Homo sapiens: one gene and its partners. The protein of the gene in region 1 purifies or fractionates together with the protein of each later gene. This does not show direct contact. Each region holds a gene or a part of one and is shown in the gene's direction. Other genes may lie near its edges.

Region 1 (3,500 bases):
GTTGAACCCGAGGGTATGAACATTTTGCATTTTATACAGGTGTGCTGTTTTTACCCCTGCTAACAGCGTTTGAGAGTACTCGCTTCGTGGTGCTGAGGGATGGGCAGATTTTTATAATGCAAGATCAACATAAAAACTAAGCAGCCTAAAACCGGAAATTAAGAACCCCATGAGGCCAGTGCCCTGACTCACGCCTGTAATCCCCACACTTTGTGAGGCTGAGGCAGTTGCTTGCGCTCAGGAGTTTGAAACTAGCCTGGGCAACATGGCGAAACCCCGTCTCTACCAAAAATAGAAAAAGAAAAAATTAACTGAGTGTGGTAGCACACACTTGTGGTCCCAGTTACTGGGGAGGCTGAGAGGTGGAGGTTGCAGTGAGCTGGGATCGTGCCACTGCACTCAAGCCTGGGTGACAGAGTGAGACCCTGTAACCCACCATACAAAAAGAACCTCGATACCCATACAGTGATACCTTGCTCCTCTCATATGGGAGTCTATTAAGAGCATTCTTTGGGTACATCTTAGTGTATTGACTTAAAACGATGTCTCAGGATGCATGGGGAAAAGCAGTAGGTTTGGCGTGGCTCAATTTCTACATTAGAGACAAATATAAATATATTTTTAACTGGAGCTCTATATGTCTAACAGCGGCTCTTTCAGGAGCAGAGGCTGCTCACTGACTCAGCAATTATTTCAGTGCCCACTCTGCACCCAGAGCTATCCCAGGCCCTGGGAATATAGTATAAAAGATTTCTGCTCTTATGAAGTTTGTAGTCTACTTTGGGAGAGATGGACCCAAAAAATGTGTTTAAAGAGAATTTCAGAGATGGATGTCTATTACGAAGCAGGTAACAGTGTAATGTGACTAAAAATGACTTTAGATGTGACCACATTTTTATTGTATATACTGCTAGATGTGATTATGTTATGGGATCCTTTCCGTTTCTACATTTTGGGTGTGTTTGAACTTTCGATGAGTGTGAATTCCTTTCGTAATCAGAATAAAACATTATAGATAATAAAACCCATTGTAAAGCTTTGAAATGAAACCCTTGACTCCTAGCTGGTATCCTGCAGGTCTTGACTCCTATTTTTTTGTTTGTTTGCTTGTTTTGTTTTGGCTTTTTCGAGACAGAGTCTCGCTCTGTCGCCCAGGCTGGAATGCAGTGGTGTGATCGTAACTCACAGCAGCCTTGACCTCTTGGGCTCAAGCGATCTTCCTGTCTCAGCCTCCCGAGTAGCTGGGACTACAGGTGTGCAGCACCATGCCCAGCTATTTAAAATTTTTTTTTTTTTTTTTTTTTTTTTTGTTGAGAGAGAGTCTCCCTGTGTTGCCCAGGCTGGTCTTGAACTCGTTGGCCTCAAGCAGTCTTCCTGCCTTGGCCTCCCAAAGTGTTGGGATTACAGGCGTGAGCCACCACATCTGGCCTGGGTCTTGACTCTTAAGCACCTTAGGTCCCCGGAGCAGGCATTTCCATCTCCAGGTTCAACTTATCATTGTGGGGGTTGGGGGGCTATGGGCCAACTTGAGATGAACAGAACAAGACGCGGTGAGGGTACCATGGGAAAAGGAAGCCACCCCCATTTCCAGAAACTCTTTAGGCTTGGTTAGCATCGTGAACTGCAGAGCAAGCCTGGGGCCTGTGTAGAATGGGGCCAGGGATTGAAAAGCTGGAGGAAGGAGTGGGTCTGAGGGTGGGAGCTTCCTTTTTTTTTTTTTTGAGATGGAGTTTCGCTCTTGTCCCCCGGTCTGGAGTGCAGTGGCTCAATTTCGGCTCACTGCAACCTCCGCCTCCCGGGTTCAAATGATTCTTTTGCCTCAGCCTCCCGAGTAGCTGGGATTACAGGCGCCCACCACCACGCCGGGCTAAATTTTTTTTTTTTGTATTTTTAGTAGAGATGGGGTTTTGCCATGTTGGCCAGGCTTGTCTCGAACTCCTGACCTCAGGTGATCTGCCCGCCTCTGCCTCCCAAAGTGCTGAGATTATAGGCGTGAGCCACTGCACCTGGCCTGAGGGTGGGAGCTTCTGATAACAGCATCCCATGAGGGGTGTATGTGCATAGAAGTGGGAAGAACTGGGGAGGCGGATTTGAGGGAAGTGAGTCTGACCTGTCTCATGCCGCCTGTCTGCCTGGTATGGCCTTATCTTGCCCTAGTGTCCGCTAAATGCCCGTGTCTCCTCTCTGCTCCACCACAGATGCCGTGCGCGAAATTCGGAAGTATGATGATGTGACGGAAAAGGTGAACCTCCAGAACAATCCCGGGGCCATGGAGCACTTCCACATGAAGCTTTTCCGTGCCCAGAGGAATCTCTACATTGCTGGCTTTTCCTTGCTGCTGTCCTTGTGAGTGGGGGGTTGAGGGGGCAGGTGCTGTGAAAGGAGCCATGGGCTAGCCATGGACACCGAGCTCAGTGGGCTCAGTCTCCCCCCTGTGACTTTGATTCCTCCTCAGTCTGTGGCCTGGATCCCAAAGCCCTGTCTGTGTTAGGGAAGCCACATAGTTTTCTCCTGACCTCCAGAGGCAGCGTGGAGAGTAGGAGAGGGCTGCCTGAAATATCAGAAGACCCTCACACACCACATACTCTCAGGCAAACAGATGACTATCTCACGGTCTGTTTGCATGGAGAGTGAGATGTAACGGTAAGGCCTTGCCCTCCTCTGGGAGAGGACCTTCAGAGTCCAGCTCACAAGGGAGCGACTGAATGGGGGACTCTTTGTGTCCGGGGTGTTGACCTAGGGACAGCAGGTAAAAGTGGCACGAAGAGGCTGGGCCTCTCCTCACCTCAGGGCCTTCCCCACGTGAAACTCGTAATGAGGACATGTTACATTCCATGGCAGCCAGAGTATTTCTGATGATTTTTTTGGTAAAACTAAGTACCTTAATCAAGGCTAAGGGTAACTAGTCGGGCAAAACTAGACCACTACGAAGTGCCTATTTGAGCCTGGGGCCCTGTTTGCTGCCTCCTGCTTCACATAGCCGTTCTGATCAGCAGGGCCTGGCTGGGAGGTGGATGGGAGCTCAGACCATGTATGAAGGCATTGGAAAGGCGCTTGCTTTGAGGGTGGAGCTCTCATCACTTAATCACTTCTCAAAAGACCCCACCTCTTAATGCTACGGCAGTGAGGATTAAATTCCAACACATGAAGTTTGAAGGGCACTCAGACCATAGCACCAAGTGATTCTCAGGCTCATGGACAGTTATTCCCCACTTGGTTTTGTGCCCCGAGACTCAAGAATCTCCATGCCTAGGAGATTCTTGCTCTCTAGTCACCTGGTGTGTCCTGCTTTACTAGGCGCTACGATGACTACTTGTCTTAAAATCTGTTGTTTAGATGATCTGGTACTCTCTGCGACCAAGTTGGAAAGAGGGGTGGAGCTAGAAAAGGCAAACACATTTTTTTCAAGATAATGGGTTTGATCACAGATTTGATCTACAAGCTTGCTGTCTTCAAACTTAGGAAAGTCAGGAAGGCTGGGAGGAGTCAGACACATACCC
Region 2 (3,500 bases), on another chromosome or scaffold:
TGCCCATCCCCACTTCTGGGTCCTCCTTACTGACCCGCGACATCCTCTCCCCACCTTTCTCCCTCTCTCTGGGCACTACAGCTGGTCACTTCCCACACATGGTCGCATGAGTAGAGGCTTAGCAAGGAGTGCGTTATGGAGGACAGATTTCTGCTACTGACTTCGCCGAAGTGGATCCACAGCTTCCATTTGGCTCAGGCTCTTTGGGAGAATTTCACTTCTTTTGTTACCTCTAATCTTACCTATGTGTAACCACACATTTTGGTCTTTTTCTTAAATCTTTTAGATAATCATCAGATAAGTTTACTTACCTGTTATTCTACTACTTTCTGCCTTGCCTTTTCTTCAGGCCACCCCCAAGTGCTATAACCTGCCCAAAGGTTAGGACATAACACCGCTGCCACACGTTTATCTCTGGGCATAACCACGATGGCATAAACACCAGCATTCCCAATTTTTCTTTGTCTCTTCGGAATGCTGACAGGCAAAGAAGAGCATTTTCTTTAGTCTCCAAATGTGTGGCTCACGCCTGTAATCCCAACACTTTGTGAGGCCGAGGCAGGTGGATTACCTGAGGTCAGGAGTTCAAGACCAGCCTGACCAATCTGGTGAAATCCCGTCTCTACTAAAAATACAAAAATTAGCCGGGTGTGGTGGCAGGAGCCTGTAGTCCCAGCTACTCCAGAGGCTGAGACAGGAGAATTGCTTGAACCTGGGAGGCGGAGGTTGCAGTGAGCTGAAATTGCGTCACTGCACTCCAGCCTGGGTGACACAGCGAGACTCCGTCTCAAAAAAAAAAAAAGTGATGTGTGCTTATTAAAATTGCTGCATGTATTTACTAACAAGAGTGAGAAGATTGACAAGTTTCAAAACATGATTTAGATTCAGTTTACTTGGCCAAGTGTCTCTCTCTCTCTCTCCGTAATACATATATTTCAAGGAAAATATTAGATATTACAAAAAGCCACCCTCATCTTTTACTGTCTTATCAAGATGAGTTATTTTTTCCAAAATATCAATTTTTAGGATTTGATTTTCCTACCAATTATTAAGATAGACCTTTAGGATGGAGTGAAAATATTTTAGTATCAGTTAGTTTATTCTAAGCTATGTTTTTTTTTTTTTTAGTTTTTTAAATCTTTAAAATTTTACATGAGTTATCAGTGAAACCAATATAATCCAAGATGTTTCTCTCTCTCTCTTTTTTTTTTTTGTTAGAAAATTGCCCCACAAATGGTTTAGGCAAGGTAAAAACCAGAGGTCGATAGGTAGATTCATACATACCTATCCCTTGTTGCTGTTCTTGGTCAAAAATTAAGGTGAGGAGTTGCCCTGTTGTACTTCTGTTTCAGATTAAGACTGTGGAATTACCCCATGAAATTGAATGTGTATTTTCTCCATTTTAGCACTGTAAAGATCAGAATTCTGTATCTAAAAACTTGTCTAAGTCTGCAATTCTTTATAAAGGGCCAAGTCCATGTTTTTAACCTCACTCGAAGTCGTCCTTTGAACATCGGCTGTCCCTGGCAAATAATGATTGACTCTGGGCGATTTGTCTCCACTGACATATCCTTAACAGGAATCAAAAGTTACGGCAGCTCCTGAGTTCAGCGGTCCCTACGCGAGTAACAGCAGTCTGTGAGTTTACATAGTTGTGGGTCCTGGCTGAGTCATTTTATATCTCACCATGTGGCTTCTCTCTACTCAGTAGGTGAGTGGAAGTGTCCAACCTTAAGCAGACTTTTCTGGAATCAACAAAACCATGTTTTTATTGCTGCAGCCTTGGCGAGGAATCCAGAAGTTTCGGGTTGGCTTTGAGGTAGCCATTCTGTTGTCTGCACATCTAACGTGCATTCCCATGCCTGTTTAAGGTGGACTTTTAATAATCTAAATGGCCCCAGTAGAAGACATTTCAGTAAATTGGGGAATGCCTATACAATGTAACAGCATGTAGCCATGTCAAAGTCCCGTTGAGGAAGAATACTTAGTGACTGACATGGTTTGCACCTGTTCCCTCCAAACCTCATGTTGAAATGTGGCCTCCAGGGTTGGAGGTGGGCCTAGCAGGAATGTTTAGGTCATGGGGGCAGATCCCTTATGAATGGCTTTGTGTCGTCCTCACAGTAGTGAGTGACTTCTCACTTTGTTAGTTCAGGCAGAGTTGGTTGTTTAAAGAGCCTGGGACCACCTCCTCTCTCGCCATGAGATGTGTGGGCTCCCCCGGGCCTTCCACTGTGCGTAAAAGCTTCCCGAGGCCTCACCAGAGGCCGAGCAGATGATGGTGCCGTGCTTGTACAGGCTGCAGAACTGAGAGCCAAAGTAACCCCTGTTTTCTTTGTAAATGATCCAGTCTCAGGTATTTCTTCATAGCAGTACAAAACAGACTAACATAGAGACACTGGAAAGTGTTTAATAAAAATGCTGGGTAATAGTTACTGAGCATAAACGATGTGCCAGACACATATGTTCATAGATTTCATCCTCAAAAACTACATGCGTGTTTTCCCAAGTTCACAGAGTGAGTGGTAACCACTAGGCACCTCTGCCTCTGTACCATGTATCACCTCCTTTTTATTTTCTAAAACAATGCATAGGATAACCATCACAGTTTCTATCCAACATTACATACACATACGTGTGTGTGTATGTCTGGCTCTCTGGAGGCAAGATGATGGGTGATTTTAATTTTTTTCTTTGTGCTTCCCAGTTTTTCTGCAGCATAGATGGATAAATGTTATAAAAAGAAAAAAAAAGAGTGGATGTCCTTAGCACTAGGTATGTTTAGACCAAGTAGGAAGAGAAACAGTTTCAAATCAGAATAATGATCCACCTTCCTACAATGTGATGTGCCCTGATGTCTTCATTACTGGGAGAAATTAAGGACTGACCACAGTCGACTCTGCAAGGGAGACCGGTTTTTGTGCAGTTGTTGGACACTTGCAGGTGACTTGCTCAAGGTCAGGATGAATCTAAAATAACATTCAAGCTCAGTTAAAGAAGTTTTTTTTTTTCCTACAAAAGTACGTATTTAGGATGCTTTGCCCAAGCTCCGCTTTCTTTTTTATTACTCTGAGAGCTGCTTCCCTTGCCTGAGAATCCCCAGACCTCCTTACCTCTGTCCTGTGACTAATCCCCACTTGTCAATCATCTTGGAGAAAAAATTTCCCTCCCTGCATCATGACCATCCTTGTTTCACATATTAAAGCAGCTGAAAGCACTAAAACTCTTTTATTCCACAAGAGGCTCTTCCCGCCTCTCCCCAGTGTGGAGTTGAACCCCTGCCTCCGTGCCTCCATTGTGTCCTGGCAGCACTGTGTCCTGGTGGCAGCATCTTCAGCAAGTTACTTGTTTTGTTTTGTTTTTACCTACCAGAAAGTGAGTTCTGCAAAGGCAGGGACTCATCTATCTGACAGTCTGTGCTGCCCGTGCATTGCCGGCACGCAGGGTGCTTTCCAGAGGGAAGTGACACACGTGCCTCTTGTGAATCGTCATCTTAGGCA
Region 3 (3,500 bases), on another chromosome or scaffold:
TAGACATTAGGAAATAACTATACTTTCATGTAATACCTATGTGAGTTAACTTCTTAAGAAATAAGCTTCCTTTTTTTCTCTCTTTTTGAGAATGTTCATCTGTTTCTGCAAATAGCAGCTAACAAAACTGACATTTCAAAAGTCATAAAAGTTTTTATTTTCATGGTTTTCAGCTGGGAGGCTGAACTGAATGTCCTGCGAAATTCTCTCACTAACCATGAAAGCATTAAGCTGAAGTGACACTTCTAATTGGGGAAGGAAAGCAACTGAAGAAGTATTATAGCCTATGTTAACATTTTTTTTTTTTTTTTTTTTTTGAGATGGAGTCTCATTCTGTCGCCCAGGCTGGAGCACAGTGGCACGATCTCGGCTCACTGCAACCTCCGCCTCCTGGGTTCACGTGATTTTCCTGCCTCAGCCTCCCGAGTAGCTGGGATTTCAGGCGCCCACCACCACGCCTGGCTAATTTTTTGTGTATTTTTAATAGAGACGGGGTTTCACTATGTTGGCCAGACTAGTCTTGAACTCCTGACCTCATGATCCGCCTGCCTCGACCTCCCAAAGTGCTGAGATTACAGGCGTGAGCCACCGCACCTAGCCCTTAGCCTATGTTAACATTATAGTGAGGTACTGTGGGTTAAGAAAAAATTAAATGACTCAACCAACATTATTTCTTACTGCGTGTGTGTTTTTTAATTCAAAATAGTGTAACATTTTCTCTTTTTGGAAGACAAAAAATAACTGAAATAAATAACTGCTAGAGATTGGCATTTGGGTGGACAGACAGAGACTTAGAATCTAGTGTGGGCGGTTTGGCTTTCCTTCCTACTCCTTTCTTTTCTTTGCCCCTCCCCCTGACAACTAAATCAAAAGCTACAATTTGTGTGTGTTCTATCTAAGCTCCAGAAATCCCTTAAGAATGGCCATTCATAATGTTAGCTATATTTAGAAACAGGGAAAACTGCACTTTGCAGTGACAGTTTATTTTTGTATGTAGCGGATTTTGTTGTTCAGAATGTTTTAACATTTATGAAAATGATCACTGTTTTTGATCTATCTGCAAATTTCCACAGAGATTCCAAATGATTTTAGATATTGTTTAAAGTTAGGTTTTCCTAATATAAAACTTACTCAGCAAATGCCTGACTTCTCAATCTCAGCATTTTCTCTTAGATATATTATAGCTTAATTTGGCTCTTTTAAAACAGTCAACCTGGAATTTGAAAGTAGTGGATGCCTGTCTAATAATAATCATCTACATGTAAATGTATCAATATTTATATCCATTGTAGGTCTGTGCTTAAAGCAGTGGACACAATGAGTGTTATACCCAAATCCTAATCCATTGAATATGCAGTTATCAAATATATGCCCTGTTAGAAGACTATGGAAATAAACGGAAACCCTTCAAGTTTTGACTTTGTTTAAGAATACTGTATATCTCTTCTATATGGTTTTGAATCATATGTATCAATAGAATTTAAGGGGAAATATTGCATCTACCCTGTAATAATAGAATATATGTAAGAACATATAAAAGGAAAGCTTATATACTTTGTGAATTATGTATGTGTTCTTCTCCCTGTCTTGAGATTCTTCATTGTTTTTAGTATCCTAAACTGGGTAGAAATTAACATAGAAGAAAGTAAATACGAACCAAATGACTTGAATGCTTGATCACAATCTCGTGAAGTGAAGAAAGGCAAAAGTTGGAACCAGATGGAGGTTTCAGCTTAGCTGTGAATTTCACACATCTGCAGTGCATTCCTTTCTGCCAGTAGAGGTGAATATACACAGTTAAATCTCTCTAGACAAGGACCAGACCTGTGCTTCATAAGTTAAAGGAAACTCCACTTGCGAAATTTCAAGTCATGTTAATCAGAATGAATGATGCCATGCTCTCCTTGCATTATAAAGAGCCGTTTACAGAACAACTGTTATGTCTTCTTGAGGAATTAGTTTCATTTAAGTTCTTATCTTTATGTCTTTTTAGAAAGTGCAACAGTATACGTTAATAATTCAAGCTACAGACATGGAAGGCAATCCCACATATGGCCTTTCAAACACAGCCACGGCCGTCATCACAGTGACAGATGTCAATGACAATCCTCCAGAGTTTACTGCCATGACGGTGAGTACAGCCTGTCACTCACACAACTTTGGGTCTGTAGTTCGTTACTGAGAAGGTTGGTCATGAATAATAAATGTGTTAAATAGAGGTGGAACTTGCTTCACCTAATAGTAGCATGGCTGCTAACTCGGACATTTCTGTCATCAGGGCCTTACGTGAGGCATCCAAGTAATTTGTTTCTTCGTAGTCTTCAAGTCCACTGTTAAAGTTGTTAAAATAAGCTGCCTGGAAAACACGTCCTAAAAAGACTGTGCTGTTACAACAAAATGCTTATGAATATTTTCAGGTGCATGAGCTGCATGACTGATTTATGCTACTTTGTCAGCATATAATTATCCATATCTGGAGTAAAATCATTTTGCACAGACAAGTTCTTTCCCCCACCCCACCATAATCACCCAGAGACTCACAAATGGATGCTGATTTTAATATTAATGAAACTGTAAGGTAATTTGGAAAAAAATTGGACTACTGAAAAATGTTACAGTATTTTTAAAGTCAGACATAAATGCTGTGATTACCTGCATTATCAGTCTCCTCATTTAGTGTAGATAATAAAAATCTAATGGGGCAGTAAAATCGGACGGTGTGGTCATCAAGACAAGTTGTCCTTCAGTGGTCCATGCCCCTCCTCTGACTGAGGTTTGTCTTTCTCGCAGTTTTATGGTGAAGTTCCTGAGAACAGGGTAGACATCATAGTAGCTAATCTAACTGTGACCGATAAGGATCAACCCCATACACCAGCCTGGAACGCAGTGTACAGAATCAGTGGCGGAGATCCTACTGGACGGTTCGCCATCCAGACCGACCCAAACAGCAACGACGGGTTAGTCACCGTGGTCAAAGTAAGTGTTCCTCGGGCCACTGATCTCTCCAACAGCTGCTCAGCAAGGACCAATATATGTCCCCCACTCATTGTTTTGCAATGGAAACTTAGGACGTTTTTCTTTCAGACATCTCCAGATGTGGGTCTGATATATATTTGGGAGGTTATATCTTACTGTTTAATTTATGCTGAGGCTAAGGCCAACATCAGTACTCTCACATCATCACTGATGTGAGGGTTTTTGAATGAGTTTTATGATGAGAGTTTTGTGAGAGTTTTTGAATGAGAGTTTTGAGTGAGAGTTTTGATGATTGTTTTTGAATCAGTTTGGACAGTTTTTACCAATCTGAGGATAGGACTGGCCTGAACAACATTAACTGTTAGTGTAGTTGATATATTCATGATATATCACATTCTGAAATTTTGATCACCATTGATAGCTATTAAGAATGATGCCTCACAGCTGCTATTTTCATGTCTACAGCTATTAGAATATTGGCAGATAGTGAACAAACCAGAAAAGCCATAGAAGAAAAATGTAAT
Region 4 (3,992 bases), on another chromosome or scaffold:
TTATTTACTTTGATTTTTCCAGTTTCCTTTCGTTATTTTGGGGCCACTGTTTTTCAGTCTCCAACGTTTTCATAAGCCCTAGGGGATATGACAGCGCTACAGGAATCCAGCCTTATATTCTTAAGAACCTCTCATAGCCCTTCACGTAGGGAGCTCTGATGAATGAATGAAGGAGCGACTGAACGAGTGAATGAATGAGGTGAATAAAGTTTCTTCCAAGTTTTCTCTCCAAGGTCGGTTCTCTTCTCATTCTTCTGGAATCTCAGCCTTGCCTGGAGGCTGGGCAGGAGAGCCTCTCACCCCGCTAACACCAAAACTGCGACCTTGGAGGACCGTGTCCTGCGCCTGGCGCTCGGCCGATCCCGGCAGAGTCCGCCTGGGGCCGGGGTCGGGACAGTGGCCGCAGCGTGGAGCGCAGCCGGGTCCCGGGCCAAACCCTGTGCGCATGGGCGGAGCAGCGCCCTCCCCCGCGTTCCTTCCCCCACTGCAGGTGAGTCGCAGCGCCGCGGCCCCAACCCCGCGCAGCCCCGGGGGTGACGTCAGGACTCTGGACCGCGCTCCGCCCCGCCCCTGCAGGCAACGCTGAGGGCCCGCGACTCCGCGGTGGAACCCCGTCCCGCTGCGGTACATGCCGGCTGCCGCAAGCACAGGGGGCGACCGGGCGCTCGAATGTGCTGCGGCTGCGGCGGCTGCCTGACGCTAGGACGAGGAGTCTGCAGTCAGAGCGCCAGCCTCCTGCCGCGGCCCACCTGCCCCGCGGCCCGCACAGCCAATGTCAGCGCAGCGCGCCGGCCGCCGCGGGGCCCGCACCCGCAGCCTCGCGGGATCGCCGGGCGTTCAGCCAGCCTCAGCTGTCCATCTACGCACGAGCCAGCCAATCCCGCGCCACTGCCCCGGCCGCACCTCCCGGAGCCTATGACGGGCGTAAGAGCCAGCCCATGAGATTGGGGCCTCTGTGGCCTGGGCTGGGAGCGGGAGCCAATGAGCGTCATTCCAGGTGGGTGGAGGGAGCCGGACTCGGGAAGGTAGCTTCGTTCGGGTTGCTAACGTCTTCCCTTGGAGATGGGCGCGCAAACCAACCAGTGGGTCTGGGGGCGGCGGTGATGGGCGTGGAGCTGGCCCAATGAGGGTAGGGGTGGGTGGGGCAGCCCCGAGCAGCAGTGCTAAAGGAGCCCGGCGGAGGCAGCGGTGGGTTTGGGACTGAGGCGCTGGATCTGTGGTCGCGGCTGGGGACGTGCGCCCGCGCCACCATCTTCGGCTGAAGGTGAGAGGTGCGGCTACCCGGGTCCGAGTGCACGGCCCAGGGCTGGGGGACAGTTTGTGGAGGGAGGAATGGCTCCTGGGCTGAGGGGTCCCGGGCGGCTCTGGAGGACAGGAACGGGGGACCGAAGCGGGAGCTGGGGAAGACAGAGGGGCTTCTGAGCTGTAGGGTTTGTGCTGCGGGGACCTTAGGTTAGTTTGAGCAGGGTCCTGGGCTGGGGGCACTGGGACCTCAGTGGGTGGAGATGGAGAGACTCCCGGAGGAGCGGGGAATGAAGTCCTTGTGAAACCCGCGGGGGTCAGGGCCTGGGTGTGCAGGAGGGCGACCCCTGGGGGGCTGGGGGATGGAGATCTGGGGGTGGGGACGTGAGGACCAGGTTCTCGGTGGGTGGGATCCCTGGGGGCGCGAGGTCGAGGGGCTAGTGTCCCGGCGGAGGTCTCGGCGTGCCCCGCGAGCCAGTGTCTGCCTCCCAGGAAGAGAGGGGATTCTAAGCGGGGCTGGAAAGCGCAGTCCCGGCGGTAGGGTGGGGGGGCGCTGGGCAGGAAGGGCCCCTGCGTGGGTTGCTGGGTGGGTTAGGCCTGGCGCGACCGGTCCCCCGCAGCACCAGAGGGGTTCACCATGGGCTTGGAAGGCGGGCGGCGCGCGCCCGACCCGTGGGTGGAGGGACAGGAGGGCATTGGCTCTGCGCGGCCGGGGAAGCGCGCGGCGGGTGAGGGGCTCCGGAGCCGGCCGCGGGCGTGGGGAGGGTCGGACTCCGCCGGCGCCGGGGAAGGAGCGCGGGAGGAGGGCGTCCTGCCGCGCCCTCCGTGGAGCGCCTAGGCCGGGGGTGGACGCCCTGCGAGGCCCAGGCGGTTTGAGGGGGCGAGGCGGGAAATGTGGCGGGGCGCGCTGCAGCAGGACGGCCGGGGGGAGGGTCAGCACTCGCCTCGGGATCCCTTTATTGTGTAAGCGAGCTGGGAATGGCTCGCCGCAGTCTCTTCATTGCCTTCTGCAGTTGGGGGTCACACCCTGATCCCATAAAATCGGACTGGAATTGGTTCGGAGGGAAGTTGAAGCCGCGGAGTCCTGGCATTTGTGGGGGCTTTGTGGGCCTGTGGTGGGCGGATGCGGCCCTGGGAAGCGGGAGGCCCCCAGCCAGGCCTGTTTGGAACTAGGGCCTTAGGAAGGAGGTTGGCGACTCGGCGGGTCAGACCGGGCTGGTGAGGTTTGGATAACGTGGCCTCTGCCTACAGCCGTTATCTCTGTTTCTTTAGGGCCTCTGCAGCTCCCTTCAAGATCACTGCGGTGGATGGAAGGGGGTGGGGTGGGCTGGGGTGGGGTAGGGGAAAGCAGGCGGGGTAGATGCAGACTGCAGATGAAACAAAGACTGCTGTTTTCGCTGAATAATGTAATACCAAACATAATACTTTGGCTTTGCTGAGATTTTGTTTTTTAACGTTGAAACTGAGGATTCTTTGAGTCAGGTTTAATTATTCTTGATAGTATCTCACTCTGGAAAACTTTATAATCTATTTATTGTTTTATCTCCTTCATCAATCTGCCTTTATTAATTATTCTTTGAGTCCCTTGCTTTTGATGTTTAAGTATGCCCTGCCTGTCTCGGGTTCTGGAAAAGTGGCCATTTTATGCATCTCCTTACTTCTGCATCTTAAATTCAGTTCTTCCCCGTCCTTATCTGGAGAAAGCATATGGTGTAATTGTGCGATATAGCACGAGCTTTGGCAGCAGAAGGATGTGACCCCTGCGAGCCTGGCTTTTCATTTGGGCTCCATAGGGAAATCATTATAACGAAGGCAGCTGAGATGGAAGGTGAGATGGAGGAAATCTTGAAGGGCACGTTGTAGGGTGGAAGACTATATGCTTCAGCGGTTTATGCACTTTATCACATGTGAGGAATTAAAGTTCCTGGTGTTGGATCCTAGTTTTGGAAATATTAAACACAGTATAGAGATATTAATTGGGAGATGGGGCAGGCCATAAGTAGCAATAGTGGCCTTTTGTGTTTGGTTTGTGTTTGTGATCATTGGGTTGAGCAGGATTTTGATAAATTAGCAGACTCGTCCAGCCCTGTCATGTAAGTGACCTCAATGGTAGCAGTACCCAAATTGGGACAGTTCTGTTTTAGCTCATCTGTTATAGATGGATGCTCTGTCATGGATAATTTATCCATCCTTCTTGTTTGCCTTTCTATGTGCAGGCCGTTCATAAAATTGAATTGTTTGCCTCTGTCCACACTCATAGTAGGTGCTGGGAGGGATTTGAAAAGTTTGCTGGGTGACATTTCATTGGAAGTGAAAAATGACCTGGGGGTGGAGCCCCAGGGGTGTGTGTGTCAAACCACTGAAAGGGATGGCAACTTTGGCTCTGTAGGGGGCTAATTCATACACAGATAAATGATTTAATTGTAATTAGGCAGCAATTTAAAATGACACTAATAACCCTCAGACCATCTTTATGTTCGCTAACAAAAAGATTCCTGTTTGTCTTTATTTCCCCTAAGTTATGGGTATCTTTTTCTATAAAATATATAAAACCTTTGCCAGATGATTCATTGGTTAAGCCTATACTTTTTAAGCCGTAATTGATTGGGTTTTTATTTAGTAGAAAGGTAGTATATAGCATTGTACACTACACACCCTTCAAAATTTCCTCCATGTCACCTTCCATCATTGTAGTGTGTACTCTGGAGCTGAACTCTGAGTTTAATCCCAGCTCTGCTACTTGTTAGCTG

What was found. Proteins that work in one complex are often made in the same cells at the same time.
Region 2: the proteins of BCAP31 (region 1) and CYB5A purify together in Homo sapiens (co-immunoprecipitation; 4 studies listed by BioGRID and IntAct, with this or other methods). This does not show direct contact.
Region 3: the proteins of BCAP31 (region 1) and CDH2 purify together in Homo sapiens (affinity purification with mass spectrometry, with the first as the bait; one large-scale study listed by BioGRID). This does not show direct contact.
Region 4: the proteins of BCAP31 (region 1) and MYH10 purify together in Homo sapiens (affinity purification with western blotting; 2 studies listed by BioGRID, with this or other methods). This does not show direct contact.

What each region holds. Positions count from the first base shown.
Region 1 is NC_000023.11:153,714,388-153,717,887, reverse strand, and holds part of BCAP31 (B-cell receptor-associated protein 31), read left to right. Parts: intron 1-2,198; coding exon 2,199-2,346; intron 2,347-3,500. UniProt on the Homo sapiens protein: Functions as a chaperone protein. Is one of the most abundant endoplasmic reticulum (ER) proteins.
Region 2 is NC_000018.10:74,264,464-74,267,963, reverse strand, and holds part of CYB5A (cytochrome b5), read left to right. Parts: intron 1-3,500.
Region 3 is NC_000018.10:27,992,131-27,995,630, reverse strand, and holds part of CDH2 (cadherin-2 isoform 1 preproprotein), read left to right. Parts: intron 1-1,993; coding exon 1,994-2,131; intron 2,132-2,790; coding exon 2,791-2,976; intron 2,977-3,500. UniProt on the Homo sapiens protein: Calcium-dependent cell adhesion protein; preferentially mediates homotypic cell-cell adhesion by dimerization with a CDH2 chain from another cell. Cadherins may thus contribute to the sorting of heterogeneous cell types.
Region 4 is NC_000017.11:8,627,926-8,631,917, reverse strand, and holds the start of MYH10 (myosin-10), read left to right. Parts: upstream 1-1,192; 5' UTR 1,193-1,264; intron 1,265-3,992. UniProt on the Homo sapiens protein: Cellular myosin that appears to play a role in cytokinesis, cell shape, and specialized functions such as secretion and capping. Involved with LARP6 in the stabilization of type I collagen mRNAs for CO1A1 and CO1A2.